Linked DNA regions of Homo sapiens: region 2 is linked to region 1. Evidence: fine-mapped expression QTL. Tissue or cell type: whole blood. Region 1 holds a variant in brackets; the other region holds the start of a gene. All regions are shown on one strand. Distances are from middle to middle.

Evidence for each region. PIP is the estimated chance that this variant, and not a neighbour inherited with it, causes the effect.
Region 2: CDCP1 starts here. The variant in region 1 is fine-mapped to the expression of CDCP1 in whole blood (TOPMed, PIP above 0.99). The same link has a PIP of 0.9 or more in blood mononuclear cells.

The regions. Positions count from the first base shown.
Region 1 is chr3:45,091,788-45,099,996 of GRCh38, forward strand. CDCP1 (CUB domain containing protein 1) reads right to left here. Exons shown (of 9, transcript NM_022842.5): 5 at 3,560-3,781; 6 at 1,490-1,870. Among named protein-coding and RNA genes, the nearest start is that of CDCP1, 50 kb to the right of the region's middle. The variant T/G (reference allele first, on the strand shown) is at 3,808.
Region 2 is chr3:45,141,982-45,148,745 of GRCh38, forward strand. It overlaps CDCP1 (CUB domain containing protein 1), which reads right to left and starts at 4,397. Exons shown (of 9, transcript NM_022842.5): 1 at 4,225-4,397. The coding sequence starts at 4,306.

The DNA.
Region 1 (8,209 bases):
TATTATTAGTTATTTTTGAGAGGGAGTCTCACTCTGTTGCCCAGGCTAGAGTGCAGTGGCACGATCTCGGCTCACTGCAAACTGCAACCTCCACCTCTCAGGTTCAAGCAATTCTCCAGCCTCAGCCTCCCGAGTAGCTAGGACTACAGGCATGAGCCACCATGACCGGCTAATTTTTTGTATTTTTAGTAGAGATGGGGTTTCACCGTGTTGGCCAGGCTGCTCTTGAACTCCTGAGCTCAAGTGATCTGCCTGCCTTGGCCTCCCAAAGAGCCGGGATTATAGGCATGAGCCACTGTGCCCAGCCTCATATTAATTTAAATTCAAATCATTGCTATGTGGCTAGCACCACTGTATTGGTCAGTGCTGGATCAGTCTCAGTCAGAGTAGGTACTCAGGACTTTTGAAAAAAAACAAAACAAACAGGCAAATAAAAACCAGGCAAGTTTCCCAAACTGGTGGTTATCTCAGCTTCCCTTCAGAAATGCTCTCAACGTAGCTACTATATTCATCTATTGCCCTCTCCGGGGTGGGGCTGGTATAGCCTGATTTCTGTTTCAGAGATTAAAATATCTTCAGGTTCTGGGAAGAGTTCCGGAACTGCAAAGCTGAAAGAGCTCCTGACACGTCAACTAATCCCTTCCTTACCTTCAGGAGAGATAAAACCCACACATTCCACACTGATGAGAATGTGTCTTATTTGCAAAGACTCCTCAGAAGGAGTTTCTCTGGTAACCTTGGAGATATCAGGCAGCCTGGACCCACCTTAATCTTATGACCAAAGATTCTTCTCCCTCCCACTCACACCTCAGAGAATAAGAGTAGGAAATAAACATCAAAGGTCTTGGTCAATTTTAAAATGGCCTCTAACTTAATGTTCTTGGAGCAACTTGTAATGGTGACTGTGACTTTTAAAGTCAACCATGTAGAAGTCACGTTGTGAGCCATTTAGACCTCATTTACTGCCTCAGAACATGGAGACCACATGCCAGCCTCCCAGGAGGGTCGGGTCTGCCCAGCCGTGCTGCTGGACTCTGGCTCCAGAGACTCGTCTCCCTCCCAACGCTCCTCCCTCTGTGCTCTCGGCACTGCATTCTGAATTGTAAAAGCAGAGTCATAAAAATGTCTGCCTAAGGATTTTTATGTCACTACCTTAAAAATCCGGGACTGGGGAATATCTGGCTATTTCTCATTTACGTCCTGCCTGCTTCCAAAAAAGACTCAAACCTGATAATGTTTTTGCTGCCTACCAACCATCGCCTCTCACTGTCAGAAACATTTTTTATTTCTAATCTCAGGAATTTTCCATGCTAGGTTAATGGTAAAGTCAGGATTAGGACTCACTATCTTTCAAATTTCTTGTGCAAGGACCAGCATATTGAGCTATCCCTTCTTTCCAAACTGGCAACTTAATTAAGGTGATCACAAAACTAAAATCAAATAAACGCTTAAACTAAAGGGGCATGGAGATAGGGGAGACCCCCCTTACCTTTGAAATAAGGTATAAAGGACACCGTCAGACCCTGCCTGGAGGCCTCTTGTTGGAAGCTGGGGGCAAAGGTGCGAAGGGTCACCGAGATGTTCTGCTTCACCTGGATCTGCTTGATAGAGCCTCCCGGGCAGAAGGAGCCGAAGTACAGGTCCTGGCTGGGTATGGCACTGGCCACGAGGTAGCTGAAGCTGGTGTTGCAGGGCTTCTCGTGTGTATGCTGCTGCAGCTTCTGGGCTGGCACCAGCACCAGGCTGAGCCTGTCCTTGGGCACCAGCAGCTTCCAGGAGAAGTCATGCAGCTCCACAGGCAGGTGGAGGATGTCACTGGGCACCTGGAGTGAGTAGGATTTCCTTTGGCAGTACCGGTGGTCTGTGCAGCCTGGAAGAAGTGGGGCATGCTAGCCATGCACAAAGGAGACCAGAAGTGCACCCTCCCCAGCTCTCCCGTCAGCCTGAGGTTGGGTGTCTGCATGCTGCCCTGTGTTTCCCTTCGGTCTCTCTTCTCCCACCCTGCCCTCTGCTTCTGGCTCCTCTGTGTTCCTTTTCTAGCGGTCCCTCTGCTCTCTTAGTAAACATTCTTACTGTTTACTAAGCTGGCAAACAAACTTCTGGGTAGTACTCAGGGTTGAAATTTCCTCTCCTTTTTTGCTTAAGTTTTTCTTCTGTGTATCTGTGTCTTAGATGCTAAGTGTCATGGGGCAGGGCACAGGTTTCACTCCACCCAGACGTGTTGCTCAGGAGGCAGTTCTGGGCAGTGGTTGGAGCTGTGAGTGGCGTTGGGGAGATGTTAGTTCGTCTTCTGGCTCTGCCACTTCCTAATAGGGTGTTCTTGGGCAGGCTACTTTGCCTCTTGTGGCCTTAGTTCCTGCATTTGAACTAAGAGCACACATCAGAAGTCATGGTAGCCCAGCAAGGAGGTGGCTGTTGGTTTACTGGCCTTCAGTCATCAAACATTTTTTTTTTTTGAGACCGAGTCTCACTCTATTGCCCAGGCTGGAGTGAAGTGGTGCGATCTCGGCTCACTGCAACCTCCACCTCCCGGGTTCAGGCGACTCTCCTGCCTCAGCCTCCCGAGTAGCTAGGATTACAGGCACCCAACACCATGCCCGGCTAATTTTTTGTATTTTTAGTAGAGATGGGGTTTCGCCATGTTGGGCAGACATGTTGGCAGACCAGCCTGCCCAACCTCAAGTTATCTGCCTGATAACCTGACCTCAAGTTATCTGCCTGCCTCGGCCTCCCAAAGTGCTGGGATTACAGGCATGAGCCACTGTGCCTGGCCAATCAAACATTTTTCAAGTGACTAGTGCATGTCCAGCACCGGTAGGGGCTAACTGGATGAAAAATAGAACGAGTCAAAGTTCTTGACCTCAGGAATCACAGTCTTGTGTGAGAGAAGACAAGAGGGCAGTGAGTGTGGAAGTGGGGGTGTGGGGTGTGGGGGGATGGGGATGGGAGAGGCTGGGGAAGTCTGAGCAAGAGAGGAGAGGATCTCACAAGAGGAAGATTGGAAGGCTGGGCAGAGAGACATAAGCCTGAACATGGGGCAGTATGACACAGTTCTGAGGGCTGCAGGCTCTACCTGAGGCTGGTCCAAAGGGACGTGTTGACACCCACTCTGCTTGCCTCCTGGTCACCCTTGCTCACCTGCACTGTGGGTGGGGTTTTTTTTTTTTTTTTGAGTCTTACTCTGTTGCCCAGGCTAGAGTGCGTGGTGCAATCTCGGCTCACTGCAACCTCCGCCTCCCAGGTTCAGGCCATTCTCCTGCTTCAGCCTTCTGAGCAGCTGAGATTATAGGCGCCTGCCACCATGCCCAGCTAATTTTTGTATTTTTAGTAAAGATGGGGTTTTACCACGTTGGCCAGGCTGGTCTTGAACTCCTGACCTCAAGTGATCCACCAGCCTTGGCCTCCCAAAGTGCTGGGATTACAGGCGTGAGCCATCGTGCCCGGCCAGATGGGCCTTTTTGATATGATTTACAACCTACCCAGGGAACCCCACTAAGGCAAGGCGGGGAGAGAAGAGCTATCCATGGCCAGGGACAAATGCACTGATTCAGGGGCGTACTTATGGTTTTTTCCACATTCATCCACAGACGTGTCAGATCATCACAAAGGAAGGAGATTTTGTGTTTGGAGCCAGATGTCAGGGTGAGGTTGCTACTGCAGGTCCGAGATTCTAGACACACGAAACAGCCAGGGACAAACTTGCGGCTCTGTTTGACGGGCCGTGGCTCGATGGTGAGTGACATGGCTCGCTCATTACTCAAGTCAACCACGTAGATTTTATCTGAAACCACAAACAGAAAACAGGCA[T/G]GAAGCATGGATCAGCAGCAACACGGGAAATGGCAAAAATTGGTAGAAAACCTCTCCTGAGGAAGAAAATGGCATATCAGACCATGGATGGATAATGTTGGGAAAACGTATTATTAAGGCAACATTACAATAACTATAAAAGACAGTTAAAAAGAAAAATAATGGACTTCACTACAATAAAAACAAAGAGAAAATCATTAAAAATGTGGCATAAACACAAATTATAAAAGTGAAAAAAAGATTAAAATATCTGTCTGATGATAGGTGCTACAAATAAGGTTAAAGGACAAGGGACACGTCGGGAGAAAGTGTTTGCAATATAGAATGATTGAGCAGCTCACAGGAAAGGAGATATAAATGACTAAATATTTAAAATATAGAAAGTTCTTAATGTCACTTGTAATCAGAAAATGCAAGTTAAAACAAAGTGTTACTGTATCCCACTCCTCAGATGGGGGGAAATGTAGATGTCTGGCAATACTGAAAGCTGGAGAGGCTACAGGAAACAGGCCCTTTGGCACACGGCCAGTGGGAGCCTGGAACACCCTGTTACAGAAACATGGGAATTAGTAAAAGAATGAACTCTTGTCTCTTCTGGGAACCAAACAGTGTGACATGGCCATGAGTGCCCACGTTTAACTGCAGCACTGTGATTGTGGGAAACTAGAGACCACCTTATACTGGAATAGATAAACTATGGGGACATTCACCAATGGAATATTACGGAGCTGTTAAAAAGAATGAGGGAGGCTGGGCACAGTGGCTCACGCTTGTAATCCTAGCACTTTGGGAGGCCGAGGCGGGCAGATCACCTGAGGTCAGGAGTTCAAGACCAGCCTGGGTAACATGTTGAAACCCCGTGTCTACTAAAAATACAAAAATTAGCTGGGTGTGGTGGTACATGCCTGTAATCCCAGCTACTTGGGAGGCTGAGACAGGAGAATCGCTTGAACCCGGGAGGCGGAGGTTGTTGAGAGCTGGGATTGTACCACTGCACCCTAGCCTAGTGACAGAGCAAGACTCCGTCTCAAAAAAAAAAAAAAAAAAAAAAAAGAGGGAGATTTGAAAACCTAAATATAAATATTGAGCAGAACAGCAAGTTGTAGATAATATGTAGAGTATGATACAATGCAGATGGTAAAATCTCTCCGTGAAACAAAATAGCTATTTATATATACAGACTTATGTATGCAGATGAAGAGAAAAAAGATCTGGAGAGAAATATGACAAATCCGTGACTGTGGTTACCCCAGAGGAGGGGCCTGGGAGTAAAGACAGACTGAGTGGTCAAGGAGGATTTTAGCTTTGCCTATAATATTTAAATTTCTAACAAGAACATAGTTACCTATTTCTTGCATCATTTGGAAAACTGCTGGATTATTGGTCATTTAGGTGATTTCTATAATTTTGCCATTAGAAATAAATGAACAGTGCCAGGCATGGTGGCTCACACCTGTAATCCCAGCACTTTCAGAGGCTGAGGCGGGTGGATCACTTGAGGTCAGGAGTTGCAGACCAGTCTGGCCAACATGGTGAAACCTCATCAATACTAAAATACAAAAATTAGCTGGGCATGGTGGTGGGCGCCTGTAATCCCAGCTACTCGGGAAGCTGAGGCACGAGAATCGGTTGAACCCAGGAGGTGGAGGTTGCAGTGAGCCGAGATCCCGCTATTTCACTCCAGCCTAGGCAATAGAGCAAGACTCTGTCTCCAAAAAAAAAAGAAAGAAAGAAAGAAAAGAAAAGAAAAAAAGAATAGGGATACCTTTTCAACTCTTTAGAATAGATTACCAGATTGGTTTATAAAAGACTCATTTCACTTTTTAATGTTATCCCTAGAAAGCTCTACACCACAGATGCCTGGGGATCAACTTGTACTGAGTTGCTTTTGAATTTCATTCATTCTTTTGTTTAAAAAAAAAAAAAAAAAAGCCCATCAGATTAGGAAGGCGCCTGTGCAAAGTGGTGCTAACTTTGCAATTCAAGGGTGTTGACAATATCACCCATCAGCGCCGGCGAATGAGTTCAATTCTAACTGGGAAAGCTCTATTTCCAAAAAGGCCTGCTAAACTTCCTTCTTCCTCATAACAGGAACCATATAATTGATGGACTCTCTCCTCTTGAACTGGCTGCAGGGAAGCTCGGTGTCAAATTAGTAGCACAATTAGGAAAATGTTTTATGGCTGTCATATCTGTTAATTGCCTGCTGTAGTTCTTGCTGTCTATTTTCCACGTAAATTTTGACATCACATCCAATAGTGCTTTAATTAGAGAGATGCCATGTCTAGAGCTGAAGTATATATTCTAATGCTGCTAACTTAAATATAATTTGATTTGGAAAATAGTCAGCTTTTCAATCACCTGGCCCCACATCCAGCTCATTTCTTACTGTCTTTCAAAACTCACCTTCATTGTTACCTGCAGGACACCTCCCCACCCCAAAGCCGTGTTAGAAGCCCCTCTGCTTCTGCAGTCCCTGCTTACCTTTACCAAGGCCCCGCCACACACTGCAGTGGTCTCCCCACCCGCTCTTCCCTCATTTCCATCTTACCAAAGCCATGCATGCACATACTTTAAAGCAGAGATTCTCAGCCTTTATTATTATTATTATTATTATTTTGGGGGACAAAGTCCCACCCTGTCACCCAGGCTGGACTGCGGTGGCGTGATCATAGCTCACTGCAGCCTCAACCTCCCAGGTTCAAGCGATTCTCCTGCTTTAGCCTCCTGAGTATCTGTGAAACAAAACAGCTATTTATATGTACAGATTTATGTATGCAGATGAAGAGAAAAAAGATATGGAGAGAAATATAACAAATCCGTGACTGTGGTTACCCCAGGGGAGGAGCCTGGGATAACCGCAGTAAAACATGCTCTGTTCCATTGCTCAATAACACACTCCGTTCCATTGCTGCCTATGGATCTTTCAGTTTCAGGCACTGTCTATTGGCTTCCCACTCAGGAAGATGTGGATTTCTCCTCCTTCACCCCACACCCCCTCCACACCCCACACCCCCACAACACAGCACAGACTAGCGAACACTCACACCACACACACTTCCCATTCCCATTCTCCCATCTTCCTGATAGTTAGCGTCATATTTTCAGCTAGATCTTCATTCTATGTTTGTGTAATCGTGACTATGTAATAATATTAACAGTGTTTAGGTAGCTACACTATATTGCATGCTATAATGATTTTTCCTTTCTGCATAAAATTTTGTGTTCCCTGTAGTGAATTATTATCATTTTAATCATTTCCTTAGTTTCTATGTACTTATCAATAATTTGATACCCAAACTCTCTTCCACTTGTATAAATCTCCTTTCAATAAATTTGAAAACATTAGGTACTTCCTCAACTTCTTAAGAAATCTCTCCAGAGCCTTTTCAATGCTCTAATCTAAAGGGGCTGCTCTTGATGCCTGGTGCTCAGGTGTGATCCTGGATCTCCTTCACTGTTATCATGGGATTCCCTTTGCTTCTCTCTTGGACTAGATCCTGGGCTTCCTGGATCCATCTTTTCTTTTCTTTTTTTTTTTTTTAATTTTTACTTTCTTTTTAGGTGGATTACAGCCTTCAGGTGCTTCTTGAGAAAGTATATATGGGGGTAAATTTTTTTAGATCTTGTAGGTCTAAAAATGTCTTTATTCCACCTTCACACTTAATTGTTTGGCTTGGTATAAAATTCTAGGTTGGAAATAATATTCCTTCAGAACTTTGAAGATCTTACTCCATTGTTTTATAATACCCAGTGTTGCTGATAAAGTTTGTTGCCATTTGGTTTCTTCTTCCTCCGTATAAAACTTTTTTACCTCTTCTCTAGAAGCTTGTAGGGTCTCTGTGTCCCTGATATTCTGAAATGTTACAATACTGTGCCTTGGTGTGGGTCTATTTATATCCATTGTGTGTGGTGGCCCCTTCCAGTTGGCAACTCATATCCATCAGTCCTGGCAAATGTTCCTGAAATATTTTGTGATGATTCCCTTCCCTCTATTTTTTCTCTGTAAAACTCCATCTATCCGGATATTGGGCCTCCTTGACTGGTCCTTGAGTTTTATATTTTCTCTTTCTTTCTATCGCGCTGGCTTTTTCTTCACTCCACTTTCTGGGAGATATCCTCAACTTTATCTTTCAGCCCTTTTGACTCTTTCATTTCTGCTAACATATTTTTAATCTCCAAGAGTTCCTTTGAACTCTTGGAGATTAAAAACGAGCTTTCTCCTGAAAGCCCTTTTTAAAAATTACAACCGGTTCCTTTTACATAAACGCAGCATCTCTTCTTATTAACTTGAGAGTCTTGATAGCTGATTTTTAGTTTTTTCTCCCTCTATAGTCTCTGTTTCCTGCAAGTGGCTTTTCTTCTATTCATTTGTTTTAGTCTTTGTATTTTTCATTAGGCT
Region 2 (6,764 bases), 49 kb after region 1:
CCACCATGTTTGGCTAATTTTTGTATTTTTTAGTACAGACGGTGTTTTGCCATGTTGGCCGGGCTGGTCTTGAACTCCTAACCTCATGTGATCTGCCCCCCTCAGCATCCCAAAGTGTTGGGATTACAGGCGTGAGCCACTGCGCCTGGCTCGGTATAAACTTTTCTTAACCACCAAGGCAGAGAACCCTAGCCACTGGTCCCCCACATCAGTGGTCTTATCATCTCCCACTGTCCCACCCACCCTGACCTCAATCAGGGGTCTTTCTGACCAGCAGACTCCTCTCCCTACCCACTCCCCACCTCATCCTATCCCATCCAAACCCAGGTCAGCACCGCTAGGCAAAAACGCAGGTGAGGCTTGTGTTATAAGCCAAGGGACCCAGTTCTGTTTTCTTTTGGCAAAAAAGCACTGGTGAGCTATTAGTACCATCCAGCTGGGGTGGTGCTTCTAAGACTCTTGAGTCTGCCCAGCAACACTGTCCAGATTCTATTTGCCAAATTGGAGGGAGGAAAATGCTTCTTCCATAGATGCTGGTGAAACAACAGTGAGGAGAGCCTGGGAGAATGTGAGAAACAAGCACTAACACACTGATGGCTGGAAAGCACACCAGGACAGGCTCTCCACAGGTGACATGGAAAGACGCATCCAAAGCCCTAAGAACCTCTCTACTCTTCATCCCAGCAATTCTGCTTCCAGAACATGGAAATACGCAACTAAAGCCCTAAGAGCCTCTCTACTCTTCATCCCAGCAACTCTGCTTCCAGAACACGGAAATACGCGTGCAAAGACCTAAGAACCTCTCTACTCTTCATCCCAGCAACTCTGCTTCCAGAACGTGGAAATGCGCGTCCAAAGCCCTAAGAGCCTCTCTACTCTTCATCCCAGCAACTCTGCTTCCAGAACTGTAGCTGGACAAAATAGTTAAGAATGTTCAGAACATGGGCGCGGTGGCTCACGCCTGTAATCCCAGCACTTCAGGAGGCCGAGGCGGGCAGATCACCTGAGGTCAGGAGTTTGAGACGAGCCTGGCTAATATGGTGAAACCCCGTTTCTACTAAAAATACAAAAAATTAGCTGGGTGTGGTGGTGCACACCTGTAATCCCAGCTACTCAGGAGGCTGAGGTAGGAGAATAGCTTGAACCTGGGAGACGGAGGTTGCAGTGAGCCGAGATCGCGCCATTGCACTCCAGCTTGGGCAATAAGAGTGAAACTCTGTCTCAAAAATTTAAAAAAAGAGTGTGCAGAACAACACAGCTGAAGAACACATTCTTAGATACATCAAAATGGGATAATCCAGTTGATACCATTTTATAACCTTGGCAACATGAGGATAATGGTTCATCCTTTCATGTCATTTTCTAGTCTGTGCTATGTAATTTCAAGTGCCTTTTCACTGAATAGACCTATTAAAATTGATACAAGCAGCTGGCTATTGTTGGACGTGTTCTATTTTTAATAAGAAAAACTGGAAGCAACTTAAATGTCCAACAACTGGGGACTGGTTAAAGCCATACAATGGGATGATCCCATTTTTGGTTTGTGCACATGAGCGTGCATACATACACATTAAGAAGACTGCATCAAAGTGAATAAGGCAGTTTGCTTATAGATAATTTTTTTCCATTTTGGTTATATTTATTGCCACTTTTTCTACAATAACTATATGCTACTTAAAACATCTTAATTATTAACTTCCTTCCCCCATATTGATAGCCAGGGAGAACACCCAGAAGAGTGTGTGTGTGCACATGCAAGGCGTGCAACCATCATAGATGAAATGGCAGCATCTGAGGTGAGCCCTAGGGCTAACAGGTCTGACTCCAAGTCATGCAAATCTGTGGGGATGTGGGGGAGGAGATGGGGGAGACTCATCAGCGCTACCAGTTACACATTCCAGACAACAGCCAGTAGCTCCTCATTTGAATCGGAAACAGAATGAACACCCACACTCACCCAGGGAGTGTGAATATATCATTTGATCTGTCTGCTCACATTTTTGGCAAGAGACAATGGTGGCAAGATTGGGGTCACTGACCCAGACTCTGGTATCTGAGTGGTTCTTAGAAAGCAACCAAATGGAGGTTTTCAAAAGGCTATGATCCCAATGTAACCAGTGTTTCACTCTTGGAAATGGGGGAGTTGGTGGGGATACCAAAGTCACACAAACACACGACACCAAGACACAAACTTTCCTTTACTTTTCATCTCTGCAGTGACACCAAATTCATTTTTACTCTGCTGAGTCTTTCTTTGTTAAGAGACTTCATGGATTTATAAAACAAATCCACTGTGCCAGGGCTCTGGCTTTCTGTATCCTTTCAGGACAGTCTCCAGGAATTTCTCAAAGGCCTTTGCCACTTAGATCCTCAAGACTACAGGCAACTACTCCAACCACAAAAGCTCTCAGTTCAGCCTGATGTACCCTCAAAGGGCCAGTTCCTGAGACCATAGGGAGGAACTTAAGAAAGCGAAAGGGAAAGTTCCTAGGTTTCTACGTATTTATGTATTGAACCATGAGACAGGGCTCAGCCAGTCAAGGACTTCCTGGAAGGGACTCCATTGGAGTTACTGGACCAAAATGGCAGCCTTCCCAGATCACAGGGAGAAATGAGACCAGGAACAGAGGCTCTCATTATTAGCAATGCCTTGATTAACACCCTGTTCTGACTGGAAGAGTTCCCCACTGTTGTCACAGAAAGCCAAAAACATCTCAGATAATTCCCAGAGTTTCAATACTGTTCCAAGACTGGTAGGCACGCATTTTTCTCAGCACACATATACACATATTTTCACTTCCTTTTTATTCTTAAACTAATTCTTTTTCTTCAAAGGGAATCTTGGAAATTCAGTCCTAAGAAATTATAGTAAATATTCATCAGCCAGGCACAGTGGCTCACATCTGTAATCCCAGCACTTTGGGAGGCCCAGGTGGGAGGATCACTTGAGCTCAGGAGCTCGAGACCAGCCTGGGCAACACAGTGAAACCCTGTCTCTACTTTAATATATATAATTTATATATATATTTATAAATCCATGCCATGGTTTAAATGAAGTTTTAAATTTTCTATCTACTATGCAGCAATATGTCACCTGATGTTGGAGAATGAACCAGGAAGTATTCCTGGAGCTTATATTGATATTTTAGAAGCTCCTGTCTTGTATTTGTAAAGACGGCAGTCACCGGGACGCCCAAATTCAACCTCACTTGCGTCCTTTTATTCCTTTATCTAATTTACACCTGCCAAACACAAATCCACCCTAGATGCAGCAAGGGGAATCAAACCCACATGGCTTCCTGGAGAGCTCTATTTAAAAAACACAAAACCTGTACTAATCTCGCGAAACCTGTACTAGCCTCACATCAAGTTCTTACATGAAGAAACCAGGTTATTTACTACGTTCTAATACATCCAGGGCCCACAGGGCATTTCCTGGCTGGCACAGGTCACTGGGACGTGTTGGTCCCTTCCCCCAACCGAAACAACTCGAAATTCACACATATCCCCGGAACAACAGCCTCCTGCCCTCAAAGTCCACTGCCAAAAAGTGCGAGGGGCGCGGGAATGTCCAGTCTCTGCGGTGGCGCAGATGCCTGGCGGCTTTCTCTGGGACCCCCTAAAAGAAATCCGGGCGCTTTCATTTTTGCACCAACGCTCTTCAACTTTAGGAGAGGGGGAATGCAGCGTGCGGACGGGAAAAAGGGGATCTAGTGGGAAATGCGGACGTGAAAGCACTTTTTTTGCACCTTCTCTCTGGACCAGGCGAGGAGGTAGAGGGCGAGCCTGGAGAGGAAAGATCTCTTCCCACACCCTGCCTGGGTGCTTTCAAGAATCCCGGCAAAGACCCTGGGGCGCACGGCGCGCCACCTTGGACATGTCGCCTGGGATCGGCTACCGGGAGCTCCTTTTCCCGCCTTCTCGGCCAGCACCGGGCTCATCCTCCCGGACCGGGAGGCTCCCCGATCGGGGACACTCTCACGTGCCGAGGGCAAGGTTGACTCCAGGAGGGCAAGGCCCACGCGCCCGACGCGGCGCGCGCAGGAACCGAACAGTCCGGGGGTCCCGGAGCCACCCGCGCATTTTGACTACGCCGTCCCCGCCCTCTCTCCGCACCCTCCGCACCCTCCGCACCCTGCGTCCCTCGGCCGCATCTCCGCCGGGCGTCCGCTGGCTGGCTAGCTCACCACTCCACGCCATCCGCCTCCAAAGCCCGGCACTCACCTGCCCCGCGCGGCAGGCGCGCCGCACCCAGCAGCAGAACCCCTAGCAGTGCGATAGAGACCCCGCAGTTCAGGCCGGCCATGACTCCGGGACGCCTCGGCCTCGGTGGGGAAAACGACGGTGGGGAGCGGCGGCCCCAGGCGCCCAAGCCCGGCGCAGCTGCGCTCCGCCCTGGCTCACTCACCTGCGCGCGGGCGGACCGGCCCGAGCCCCGCCCTGCGCAGCAGGATCGCGAGCTGACCCGGTGCGTCCCTCCTCTCTCTCCTCCTCCTCTTCCTGCCTCAGCGACCGCCTCTCCCTCCCAGGGTGCAGGGCTCCCGGCACCGGGTTGCTGGGTCCCTACTACTCCCCATTGCGGCGTTGGAGCGGACTTGTCCCCACCTTTCCGGGCTTAGTCTTCCTTCCCAAGTCTGAGAATGATGAGGTCTTTTTCTCCAGAGTCGCGAAGGTCGCCCATAGAGGAAGCCAGTCTACCTTCCCTTTTCTGTCGAGGAGACAAAGGCCATTATGCGCCTCGTTTTGGAGAAGAATCCTATTTGTGGGCCACCCAAGCCCTGGATCCTCTGCTACTTGACTTGGGCCAGAGGTCTGTTGGACTTTAAAGCCGGTGGTGGTACAGCTAGTATTTGCAGGACGGTGAGCCTGCAGCCTACTCCACACACATCACCTGCAGTATTTCCAGACACGCAACGTGTCCAAGGTCCCCAGGGTAGCTAGTAAATTAGAGGCAGATGCACCACTTCGTTGAATTGTGAGTAGAGTAGTATGCATCCCTTCACTGAGCTGTGGATGGAGTAGTATGTGCCCTTCTCGAGTTGTATTATAAATGGAGTAGTGTGTGCAGTGTGAGCGTGAAGCATTCAGGTCAAACGTTGGGCTGGAAAATGAATGAAAAATGAATGGCGCTGGACTCCTTTTCCAAATCCTCCCAGCCGCAGGTGTGCCACCTGCCTGTCTTCAGAGGCCCTGTGGGTTCTCCTTCCACCCTGCCGGCCATACACCAAGTCCAGGCCACAGGCAGAGATTGCGGATGGTTCAGGAGTTCTTAGCTAGCAGACCTGGGTTCTGCCAGAATGACTCCCTGGGACTACTTGTGTTCATGGATAGCCAGAAGCTGGGCCAGAGTCACCCGGAGCAACCTGGGAGGCTTGGGACAGGAACCAAAGCATGTGCGACAGCATCAGTTTACAGTCCAGTCCCAACTTCTGCTTAATTCTTGCGGGCACTGAGCCTCTCCAGGCTGCCCCAATCCTCCTTGTGGACAGGGGTGGGAAATCATCTCCTAGGAGCGTCACCCCTTCCTTCTCGATGTCCTTAATCATGAGAATAGAGCTAGCTCTGCCCTCTGGGAGCCCACAGTCCATCGAGGGAGGCAGAACTTGGAACATGACCCTGCCCACACCCCCACCTCTGGGAGGGCCTGTATCGTGAGCTAAACGGGACCTTAGATGTAATCTTCTAGTCCACTTCTGTCCTTGTGCAGAAAAATGGGAAAACTGAGAACTAGAGGGAAGGGAGAGGATGAGAAACGAAGAGAGGCTCTTGGTTCTCCCCACTGAATCGAGGACAAATTCATCAAGAGAAAGAAATCTTGACAAAAATCTAAACAATCTTTAAAAATATTTATGCTGACCAGGAGGGTGAAAGGAGATTTGTCTTTTCTCCTGATTCTAAGCAGGCATATATATCCCAGCATCTTTTCCTAACATCCATGACACCATTGTTTCCCACATACAGTAATACCCACAACAGTACTAGAATGGCAGTGTATTGAATGCAAAATATCAGAAATATTGCTTGACAAGTTAAGCCTAAGGAACAAGTTATTTCCTTACTATTTCGTCTCTCCAAAGTTTGCTTAACTGTCTTTCTTGGGATAGTTGACACCAGCTTTCTGAAAATGGAATGAGAGTCACTAATTCCCAAATATGAAGCATTGGTGGTGGTTCCAGAAAGTAGCAGCAACGAGAAAGAAGAAAATAGGGAGGCACTTCAGCATCCTTTGCGTGACAACCCAACTACATAGTTGAAGTAAAGATGTCCTGACATACTGTCCTGGTCCTCCAAGTGGAGTGTGAACAAAGCATTGCCAAGAATGGACATGTTTTGTCTTTACAAACATGGCTGAATGGAAGGAGTAAATTTTAAAAGGTTATTTCTGAACTGGAAAGCAACGTAGGTAACTATAATCTAGTGCTAGAGAGAAATGAGAGATTGAAAGGTAAATTTTCGGCTGGGTGCAGTAGCTCATGCCTGTAATCCCAGCACTTTGGGAGGACAAGGTGGGTGGATAACTTGAGGTCAGGAGTTGGAGACCAGCCTGGCCAACATGGCAAAACCTCATCTCTACTAAAAACACAAAAATTAGCCGGCTGTGGTGGCGGGCGCCTGTAGTCCCAGCTACCCAGGAGGCTGAGACAGGAGAATTGCTTGAACCTGGGAGGTGGAGGTTGCAGTGAGCTAAGATTGCACCATTCCACTCCAGCCTGGGCGACAGAGTAAAGTTCTCTCTCTAAAAAAAGAAAAAAAAAAAAAAGGAA